2 separate regions of the Homo sapiens genome follow, and region 1 is linked to region 2. Evidence: fine-mapped expression QTL. Tissue or cell type: sun-exposed skin. Region 2 holds a variant in brackets; the other region holds the start of a gene. All regions are shown on one strand. Distances are between the middles of the regions.

Region 1 (5,362 bases), 20 kb after region 2:
CTGGAAGGCAGAATTTGCAGTGTGCCAAGGTCACAACATTGTACTCCAGCCCCTGTTTCAAGAAAAACAAAAAACTGTCCCTGCCACTAACCGGCAGCCTTGTTGTCCACTTACTGCCGGGCTCTCTGCCTGTTCTCCCTGAACAGCTGATAACTTGTCCCATGCAGTCACACTTACCAGTGCTCCCCTCTGGCCAGGCTGCATCTACACCCCTGGCAAGGGGCAGCCCCTCCCGTGACTGCCTGCCTGAGGCCCGGAGGCCCAGAGGCTGATGGGCAGTGAGATGCTGCAGCCTTTGCCTCCTGCCTCGATGTGCAGACTCTCCCTGAGCAAACCTCTGTGGCTCTGGCCCAGGTATGGTCACTCCCTCTCAGGAACAGTCTCAGACACCCTCCAAAACTTCTCTCAAAGAGTTATTTACATTTCTTCCTAGCATCTTGGAACAGAGAAAATGTAGCCAACATCAGGGTCTATGCAGAAGAGCGTGCAGAGCAGCCCTAGACCGCTGTCCTTAGGAAGGCCTGCTTGCCAGGAGGGCTCAGGCTGGCTTCCAGGTATTTAGGTGTCAGGAGGCTTCCCACCATTCCCTAAATGATGGGAGTGGCTCAAGGTGCCTAGGCTGAGCAAATGACGTGGTGTGTGCCACACCCCTGCTTTCCTTCTGGGAGTCTGGAATTTTGGTTCATGGCAGGCAGAGGGTTCCCACATGACATTCTGATGGCTCAACACAGAGCTGGCAAGGCAGGTCTGAGCTCTAGGTAAGAACATGATACCAGCTATGTTGGTTGCACTGGTACCACTGCTGACCTGATGTGGCCATTAAGAGGTTCCGGACCCAGAGACCGGGGCAGAGCACGGTGACTGGGGCCTAGCCTCAGGAGCCAGGCTGCCAGAATTCCAATCCCTGCCTTGTTTCATACTAGTTATGAGACCTCAGCCAAACCTAACCTATTTGGGCCTCAGTGAACTCATCTGTAATACTGGGATCATAACAACCTACCTCATAGAGGTATTGTGAAGACAAAACAAATACAGGAATAGTGCCTAGAACAAATGCGGGGACTATGAATATTAAGTGCTATGATTAGTAATACTGCAGCCAGACCTGTCTGCCTAATGCCCGCTTGCAGGTCTGAGCCTGCCAGCTGAGCTCTTCCACATACTGCTCCTGACCACCGGTGTCTCTCTCGCTCCAGACTAAATATATCCCAGCTCTTCCAGGAATCTGTAAGAGATGCTTTCCAGGCCTCTCACCATCTCAGCCTCAAGACAAACTGTTTTGTGATAAAATTCTTAGAAAATGAGAATGGGAACTGACTGTGGCCAGGGTAGGCGCTTCTGCCAGTGGCCTCCCTCTCCCCAGAAAAAGCAAAGAGTGAGGGTTTTGTGTGTGAGGGAGTGAGCAAGTGTGAGTGTGCAAACACCTGGGCTACAAAACTCATCTTCGGGAGGAGGAAGGCCACCACTGGCTGGCTCTGCCCACACACCACCGGCCTTCCTCCTCGGGCCCCACTTCACCTCCTTCCCCCAACCAATGGAGAAAAGCTTTCTGGGCTGACCCAGGACTCTTGTAACTGGGCAGCCTCCTAGCTCATAGCTGCACACTGGTCCTCCTAACATCACCCTTCCACCGTGTCACTAGCCCAGCACAAAAACTGCAGCTTCAGTGCCTGCTGGACCTGCCCCTCTCTCACAGTCCTTCCCAACCTAGACCTGCTCTCCCAGTGGGCCTCAGGCTCGGGCTCCCTGATCAGACCCTGCCACAGGACCTCTCAACCTGGAGGCTGTGCTCACATTGCCCTGGGCTTCTGGGAACCCTCCCTGCTCCTCTCCACCTTACAGTGACCTACCACTCCCCAAGGTCACTCCTGGCCACCTTCTCCATGAAGCTACGTAGTGTGAGGATATTCCCCTCATCAGATCTGAAAGGTCAATGGCCCAAACTCCTCACTTTACAGAACAGGAAACTGTGGTATGAGGAGGCCTTAGGATGGGGCCATGGGCATGTCTGAACCAGGGTGTCCCTAGGCTACTTAACTGTGCAGCCAGACCTGAAAAGGACACTTGACTGTCCCTGCCCAACAACATCCAATTTGCCTAGCCTCTCCCTTCTCCCCAAATGCTTGGGGGCACTAATGACGCCAAGGGCCTGGCACAGTGTTTGCTCTGCCTAGTCACACGCTGCCCCCCATCCATGGCTGCCTCGGACTGGCCAAAGCTCAGGAGCCACCACGGTTGCAGAACTGGCTCCAGGTGCCCATCCAGAAGAACGTGGAGCAGTTGCTGGTATCAGCACCAGATACCTGATACCTCACTGATATCAGCACCAGAGTTTCCCAGCATCGTCACAGCCCACACACAACCTAGCCCAAACGGTGCCCAGGCTGTCACGGCCTGGGGCTCTCCCTCCAGTTCTCAGATCTAAACGCCTTACCTGCAGGCTTCCCAAGACAAAACTTGGGGTTTGTTCTATCTTTGTTTCTCCCCATTTCCACGTCCCCAGCCCCCGGGATCCAGGATTCCACCAAGAACAGAAGTATGAGATTTACTCACTGCCTCCGAGGCCTTCATGCCCACTCTACCAGGATAACTTGTAACGAAACAAGCCACGCCAAGGGGGTTTCCCCAGGTGGAGACTGGGCCGTGGGTACCGGCGGCGGAGAGCTGGAGAGAGGTTGTCCGAGGACCTGAACTTCCCGGCACGAACCCCTGAGCATCAGGCCTGCCCAGCCTCACCCAGCCGATCCCGAAGTTGCGGGGGGGTCCCAGCTCTTTCTCGCCCTACCGCCTTCGGGGCCGCACTGCGCCGAGGGGTCCGCGCGTCCGCCTGCCTTACCTGGCGCGCCATCCCCGGGCTCAGCCTCCCCGCCACTCCTCGGTTTCCGGCGCGGGCCCTGGCGCGGGCGCACGCGACCCTCGTCGGCGGCGGCCCAGGTCCGCGCAGGAGAAGGCGGGGCCGGGGGCCTGGGCCGAGGGGGAGGGGCGGGGGTGGGCGCGCCCGGGCCCGCCCCCGGCCTCGTTGAGCCCGCCCCGAGCGCCTCGCATCCCTTGGTGGGTGGTGCCGTTTCCGCCCGGAGCCCCCGGCTTCGGCGGCCCGGCCGGCCGGCGCAGACGCGGACTACACTTCCCAGAAGGCGCCGCGGCGCCGGCTCGGAAGCGGGGGGCGGAGACAGGGCGGGGCGGACCTGGCTCGGGCCTCGTCCCCGCCCCCTCCCCTCGTCCCCGCCCCCAGCTGCGGGTAGAGGTTGCGCGCCGAGACCAGCCGGGGCGGCTGTGGGCGTGCAAGCCCGCGGGTACGCGCCGCTTATCACTCATTCATTCCCGCAGCCACCACTCAGCGCGTCCCATGTGCCAGGGGCTGATGGTGGGGATGAAGAGGGACCCATCTTTCCCAGAGGCCGCGGTCGGGGAAACCCGACCTGGAGTGAAAGGGGTCGAGGGTCCGGCCGGGCGTGGGTGGGACAGAGCAGCTGCCAGGCCCCCGTACATCCTCACGTCTTTCGCCCGCGCCCCCGCTCGCCGCAGCCATGACCTACCTTCGTGTCACATTTTGCGTGCCTGTTTGCTGGGGTGGTAACCCCAGTTGTTCCTGGCACATAGTAGGCCTCAAATAAACGTGTGATGCGGGAAGGAAGCGCGGCCCACTCTCCTCTGCCTCCCCCTGCGCTTCACGAGTTCGAAGGCCTGGTCTGGGCGGGCGCTGCGAGAGCGCTCCGGGGGTGCGGGCGAGGCGCAGCGAGCCTGGTTTTCCTGTCTGGAGAAGGACCCCGTCATTTTTATAGAAGGCTGCTGGAAGGGGGCCTGCGGGGCTAAGCCTGCTGTGCCAGACAGAAGCTTGGAGGGGAAGGGGAGGCTGTGGTCCCACGCAGAGGAGACTCTGCTCTGAGTTTGGAAGCCCCGTCCAGACCTTGCGGCCCAGACAGCGCTCTGCCTGGGCAATATCGGAGGGAAGGAAAGGGAATTCCTCGCCCAGTCGCCCGGGGCTGGCCCTTGCAGCCGCGCCGGCCATGATCACGGACTCGGGTACGATGCCGACAACCCCTCGTCCCGGCCTCCGAGGAAAGGCGCACGCCCACTCGGGCAAAGCCCCCTCGGTCATACCCGAGACACCTTAGACACAGGACCGGCGTGTGCGCAGCCTGCTGAACAAGGATTTGAAGATATCACAAGGCCCCACCTCGCGGAAAGGGAAAACTTAAAAGTCCAACTTTTCAAGAGCCCTACAGGCCACAGCCCTCAGGGTAAGTCGCCTCCTGGGCTTTAGGCCGGGTCCCACCTCCGTGCCGAGGTGAGGCGGGCTCCTTACAGTAATGTGTTCCTGCTCCCAGCTCCTCTCCACCGCCCACCCTCCGGCCCGGGATCCCTAAACGTTAAAACCCCCTAAATCAGGGGTCCCCAACCTTTTGGGCCAGAGCCCGGTTTTGTGGAAGGGAATTTTTGCATGGACTGGGAGGGGGGTTGTTTTGGGATGAAACTGTTCCAACTCAGATCACCAGGCATTAGATTCTCCTAAGGAGCCCGCAACCTGGATCCCGCATTCACAACAGGGTTCTGGCTCCTATGAGAATCCAGCACCTGCAGATCTGACAGGAGGCAGAGCTCAGGGGTAATGCGAGCAAGGGGGAGTGGCTGTAACTACAGATAAAGCTTTCCCTGGCTTGCCCGCAGCTCACCTCCTGCTGCACTGCCCAGCTCCTAACAGGCCAGGACTGGTACTGGTCCATAGCCCAGGGACTGGGGACCCCTGCCTTAAACTTAAACACCTGTAGAAAGAAATCTCTATCCAAGTAAGATGCACCTTTGTTTTAAGCTGTGCAGATTCTTGGCACCTCTTTGACTCAAACGTCCACTTCCTGGCTAGGCTTCCTGCCCCATTTGTGGACCATCAGTCGCTAAAAGCAGTTCACCAACATGAAATTTGCTGCATGGCCAATTATTTAAATTATGGAGACACTTCCTGGCACCCCTATCCCCCAAATTTTAGTTGCGCCTTTGACCCTGTAGACCTGTATTTACCTCAGCCCGTGTGTGTGCGTTAAAAAATAGTTGTGAAGACCTGTCCTGAACCAGGTTTATTGGATGGCTCTGGACACAGACAAAGGCAGGAGTGGAGCTGAAACACATCTTTAAAAATTCCTTGGCTGGGGCCAGGCACGGTGGCTCACACCTGTAATCCCAGCACTTTGGGAGGCCAAGGCTGGTGAATTGCTTGGGCCTGGGAGTTCCAAACCAGCCTAGGCAACATGATGAAACCCCATCTCTACAAAAAATGCAAAAATTAGCCAGGTGCAGTGGTGTACCCCTGTAGTCCCAGCTGCTTGGAAGGCTGAGGTGGGAGAATCTCTTGAGCCCAGGAGGCAGA
Region 2 (5,362 bases):
TAGCTGGGATTACAGGTGCATGCTACCATGCCCAGCTAATTTTTGTATTTTTTGTAGAGACAGAGTTTCACTGTGTTGGCCAGGCTGGTCTGGAACTCCTGGCCTCAAGTGATCCATCCGCCTCGGCCTCCCAAAGTGCTGGGATTACATGTGTGAGCCACCGCACCCGGCCCCATGGTGTACTGTCCTATACGGGCCTCAATCAGGCCAATTTTGTTAAGGAGTTTGTTCGAATCTTCTACATCCCTCCCAATTTGTTCCATCATTTTCAGAGAAAGATATGCTAAAACCTCCCAAATATGATTGTGAATTTGGGTGTTTCTCCTTTTAGTTCTTTACATTTTGAGGCCAGCAGAGGAAAAAATGGATTTTTTTTTTAACCCACAACAGTGTTAATACAAAATAAGGCAGGGAAGAGAAGCCCCCTCGGAAGAGGTGGGACAAACAAAAAGCACAAAGTAAGAAAGTCTGTTAAAGCCTCAATAAATCAGTCAGTCAATTACATTTAAATGGATTAAGGGCTCCCAGTTGACGAGCAAAATCTGTCAAGATGGTTTATGAGATAAAATCCATAGGTTGTGCATAGGAGCCACATCCAAAACACAAACCCGCACAAAGGTTAACAGCATGCCTGCTGCTCTTGACCAAGCACCTTCAGCGGGGAGCAGTGAATCGTGGTTCTTGCACCCCGCAGGCCAGCCTCCCTTCCATCAGGACCCCTGGGGGTGGCCAGAAAATAATAGGGGCACGAGGAGCCCATTCATTCATATTTTGAAGCGGAACCTTCACATGTTCCTGCCTGCTGGGGGACTCTGGCTGGCAGACTGGGAAGGTCGCACTCAGATCAGCCAGGACCCGTTCGGCTCACCCAGGATGGAATGAGCAGCCTGGAGCCTTCTCTGCCCCCAATTCCAAACCCTGGAGCTCCTTTGAGTTCAAAAAGGTCCTTCAGTTTCTCCCATCAAAGGGACCACATTTCCTCTTCCAAGCCACACTGCACAGTTCTTAAAGGAGATGGGCACAGTGCCAAAGACCTAAACTGCATCTAGATTTTCCACTAGATCAATTCTAGAAGGCGTTTCAGTGACTGTGGACAGGTCCTGGAGACCTAGACCTAGGGAACTGCTTCTGCAGGAGGAACGCAGCTGCAGACCATGGAACTTCTTACCACTTATTACTTAGAATCCACATTCTTAAAACAACTTTAAACTTATTATATGGTCCAACTGGGTCTGGACCACCTAGACCAGGCTCAGTCCTGAATACCCTGGTCTGTCCCAGCAGGCAAAGGCTGGGAGGGGGCATCTGTGCCCAGGGTGAGGATGCGCCGAGTGCTGGCGGCACTGGTGAGGGCTCGAGCTCTCTTCCTAGCTCTGCTGGTTGAAGGCTGCCTAACTGTGACAGTCACTTACAGCCACCATGCTCATTTGTTCAGTCGTGCCTGTCAACTAGGGTTTGCGTGGTGGCTGTTTCGGAAGCCAGCAAAGCAAAACCACCTTAATGTGCCACACAGAAGTGTAAGGTGACCCCCCCTCCCATTGAGTCGACAGCCCAGTGACCCCTGCTTAGAAGGGAAAGGAGAATGGGAGGACAGGCAGGCACGATGGGACTGCACCAGCTGCAGCAGGGGTGGGCAAGAGTCCTCTCCTCACAGCCAGAGTCAGGGCAGGGGCAGTTTCGCTTCTCAACCCCCCTCTGAAACTGTGTCCCACCCCTTGCCGTGGCTCTGAAACGTGCCCGGCACTGCTCCCTGCTTATTAGAAGGAGAGCTCCTCAGGCAGGAGCAACCTAGAAACTTTCCCTTCCTGATTCTGTGCAAGCACGGCTGTGAGCGAACAGCCTCCGTATTTCAACAAACATCCTACTTGTATGGTCTTAGGATCTGTTTCCAGACAGTCACCTCGGGGCTCACTCTAGTCCTGAAAGCATCTTCCCATCCCTTTGTGATGTTCAGTCTGTTGCGGGCATTCCCCTCTGACAGGTGTCCTTGCCCTGCTGCTTCTACAGGGTGGCAAAGAGCAAGGGCTTCAGCTCCCAAGCTCAGCTGCAGGGCACTTAGGCCCCGAGTGTGTCCCCAGTGACCCTGACTTGAGGGACACACTGGGCGCTGCAGCCACAAGGCACTGCTCCTGTAGTCATGGTGGGCAGCCAGCATTGCCCCAGGCCACAGTGCTGGTGTCCCAGGCTCCTCAGGGACCTGAGGACAGGGCCAAGTGTGCCAGTCCACACCAGGCTGGCCCTGCCAGTCCACACCAGGCTGGCCCTGCCAGTCAACAGGTGCACATACAGGTCCTGAAACCACCTCAGGTCAAATAAGGGATTTGGGGGCACACAGGTTGCATTCTGCCTCTTGGGAAGATGATGCAAGGGAATGACAGGCAGGCTGGTTCCAACGCATTGCCAAGCGCCAGCTGAGCGGGCTGGGAGCAGGCACATTCCGGTAACCAGGACAGAAGTGGGCT[A/G]GTGATACCTGGTCATGTCTTTTCCCAAGACAAAACCAGGAAGACTGGCCCAGCCCGTTTGGTGTGTTACAGGCTGAACTGTGCCCCTCCCCAAATGTGTATGGTGAAGGCCTAACCTCCAGTACCTCCAAATGTGACCTCACTTGGAGAGGGGGTGTTTAGAGAGGTAATCAGGTTAAAATGAAGTCATTAGGGTGGGTCATAACCCCATACAACTGCTGCCCTGATATGAAGGGGAAATCTGGAGACAGCTGTGTAGAAAACACCATCTGAACAGGAAGACAGCCATCTACAGGTCAAGGGGAGAGGTCCGGGACCGATCCTCCCTCCCAGCCCAAAGCAGGAACTGAACCTGACACCTGGATTGTAGACTTCTGGCCTCCAGGACAGAGACAATATGTGCTGCTGTTGAAGCTGCCCAGGCAGGGTTCCTCTGTGAGGCAGCCCCAGGGGACTCAGAGTGTGCCCCAGGAGTCCTGTGGGAATTGCCCCACCCTTCCTGGCACACTCCTGAATGTTCTCGAGGATGTCTGGGAGACGAGGCAGCGTGCTGGTGGCACAACCAGCCCCGCCCCAGCGTGGGCCCACATGGACCTCCCTTCTATAGGAGTCAGGGCCTTCCTTAGCAACTCACTTCTTTAATTTCAGAATCCACAGAGGTAAGTCCAGCTTAGACCAGGGGGCTGAGTTCTCTCAAATGAAATCTGTGCCAATATTTACTCCAGGAAGGCAAGAGCCCAGCCCTTCAAGGCTCCTGAGATCAGGAACGGCTGGTGGTTAGGAGGCGCTCTCCTGGCCGCTCTAGCTGTGTGGGGCACCCCCTGCATATGTGGGGCACACGTGGCCTATGCACACCACCCACCTACAAGCTTGGGCGGCTCCAGTGGGAAAGACAGGAGAGGGAAGCAACATTTGATTGAATCTGAGCCAAGAGGGCCAGAGGCTGAGGAAGGCACCCCCACAGCAGCCTCCTGAGCAAACAGCACCTGGGGGCTCTACCCAGTTGGGACAAAGGGCGAGGCTCCCAGCAACAGTAAGGGAGATGGCGTCCTCTGGGAGAGGGTGGCCTGGGGTGGGGTGACAGGGCTTCCACGCCACCACTGCACCCTCGGCAAGAACGAGCAGATGTGGAGAAGAGGAATGCCATCAATGCGCCCCCCATCTCGGGTCCCTGTGCTCCCCACCCCACAGTTCTTCCTGGAGGGCCCTCTGCACTCCTCCCAGCAGGCTGCTCGGCTCCTTGGGCCGCTCTGGGATCCCGTCTGGTGCCACTCCTGAGGTCGGCACGTCTGCATCTGCACTGGCTGCAGGAGGAGAGGCTCCCTGCAGGGGTAAGGCAGCAGGCACTAAAGGGGGAAGGGGGCTCTGGTGGCCCCCGGTATGTGCGAGGAGGGGGTGTGCAGGCGGCGCAGCATGGCAGCTGGGTGTAGAGGACAGCAGCTGCTGGGAAGAGCTGCAGTGGAGCCCAGGAGGTTCTGCCGGGGGAGCGTCTGGAGGCAGCGGACGTGCCCGGCGAGCGGTCCCTCTGGAGAGTCCTTGCAGGTCACCAGCCCTGCAGCTCTCTCCCTGGCCACGCAGGATCTTTGGTTTAGGCCTCGTGGGTCCCTTCTGCCTCCAGTAGGGCAGATGTCTGTGACCAGGGCCATGAGCCCAGCGAGGTCCCCGTGGGAGGGTCCACATCCAGGAAGCTTGGCCCATTGGCCCAGGGCCTTGGGGGCGCCTCCCCAGCCGATTCACCTGGGTCCTCATGGTGGCCACTTCCTGAGCCAGGCCTGCCAGCGCTGTGGCGAGCCGATCCAGCTTCTCCGCAAGGGCAGCACCGAGGCTGTGCAGCTCCTGCTGCAGGGGCTTCCCACAGTGGCATGGCGGCTGCAGGGAGGAGGCTGGCAACACAGGAGGCGCAGCTTCCGGAGGGGGCAGCTCCGGAGGGGGAGACTCACTGGGCAGCTCAGGCGGGCCCTGGGGGAGCAGCCTCTCATGGGTCTTGGCTAAAACCAGAGCAAGGACCGGTCAGAGTTCCTGGTTTGTAAGGACCTTTCTCTCCCCAGAGGTCCCATGAACCAAGGGCGCTCAGTACTCTGCCTCCTCCAAGGCCCAGCTTCCAGAAAGGAAGGAAGGTGGGTGAGGCCTGAGAACGCAGATGCCAATGCTTATGGCATGAAAACTGGCTATGTCTCCTGGCTGTTCCCCAAACTGATGGGCAGGATCAACCACAGGTTGGGTTTCCGTGGTAACCAGGCTTTCCTAAACTGCGGTCTTCCCACCTTCTAGGAATCGGTGGGTCTTTGTGTTGTTGATGAGACCAAATGGCACCCTGCCCTAGGAGTCAGTGAGAAGGGTCCAGAGCCCCCGAGACAGCATGAGGCCAAGGCCGTGGGAGCACCAGGAGATGGGCCAGGAGGGCCAGGCAAGCCAAGGGCCTTCTGCGCATTTTTTGTGGGGTGACCCTGGGGCCACTCCAGAACTCAGTGCTCTTCGTTACAGGCAAACCACAAGGGTTCCCACCCCCTTCTGCTTTTACTCTCCCTATTGAGAAGTTACAGATTCATAGGAGTCATAAGCTTTTTGTTTTTTTTAAAAAAAGATCACCTAATCCTTCGCCCTAAATTCCCTTGGAATTGGTCCCAACCCTGGGCAAACCACAGGAAAGGCTTGGCCAGGCACCTGCCATTCCTAACCTGTTCAGCCCCAGGCCGGGCGCAGAGATGGTTTCTTCCCTGTTTCTCTGGGCCCCCAGCTGTGGCTCTGCCCTGCTCTTTTCGGCACCTCCAGGGCTTTAAACCGAGGAAAAAGTGAAGACTGGAGTAGCTAAAGGACCCAACCGCTGTTTGGTCAAGTTCATCAATAAGGATCTCGGCCTGGAGACCCCAGCTAGGACTTCTACAGAGGACAGGCAAGGC

Direction of the effects. Alleles are on the strand shown, and positions count from the first base shown. SD is a standard deviation of normalised expression in the study named.
In carriers of allele G in region 2, the expression in sun-exposed skin of the gene that starts at base 2,952 in region 1 tends to be higher than with A alone (moderate effect, 0.67 SD a copy in GTEx).

The links.
Region 1: KRABD3 starts here. The variant in region 2 is fine-mapped to the expression of KRABD3 in sun-exposed skin (GTEx, PIP above 0.99). The same link has a PIP of 0.9 or more in unexposed skin.

Annotation. Positions count from the first base shown.
Region 1 is chr7:149,712,541-149,717,902 of GRCh38, reverse strand. It overlaps KRABD3 (KRAB domain containing 3), which reads right to left and starts at 2,952. Exons shown (of 17, transcript NM_001290187.2): 1 at 2,837-2,952. The coding sequence starts at 2,848. RefSeq lists enhancers at 2,030-2,662, 3,300-3,799 and silencers at 2,865-3,304, 4,131-4,425.
Region 2 is chr7:149,732,294-149,737,655 of GRCh38, reverse strand. KRABD3 (KRAB domain containing 3) reads right to left here. Exons shown (of 17, transcript NM_001290187.2): 17 at 3,081-4,450. The coding sequence ends at 3,609. Among named protein-coding and RNA genes, the nearest start is that of KRABD3, 20 kb to the right of the region's middle. RefSeq lists an enhancer at 1,679-2,595. The variant A/G (reference allele first, on the strand shown) is at 2,463.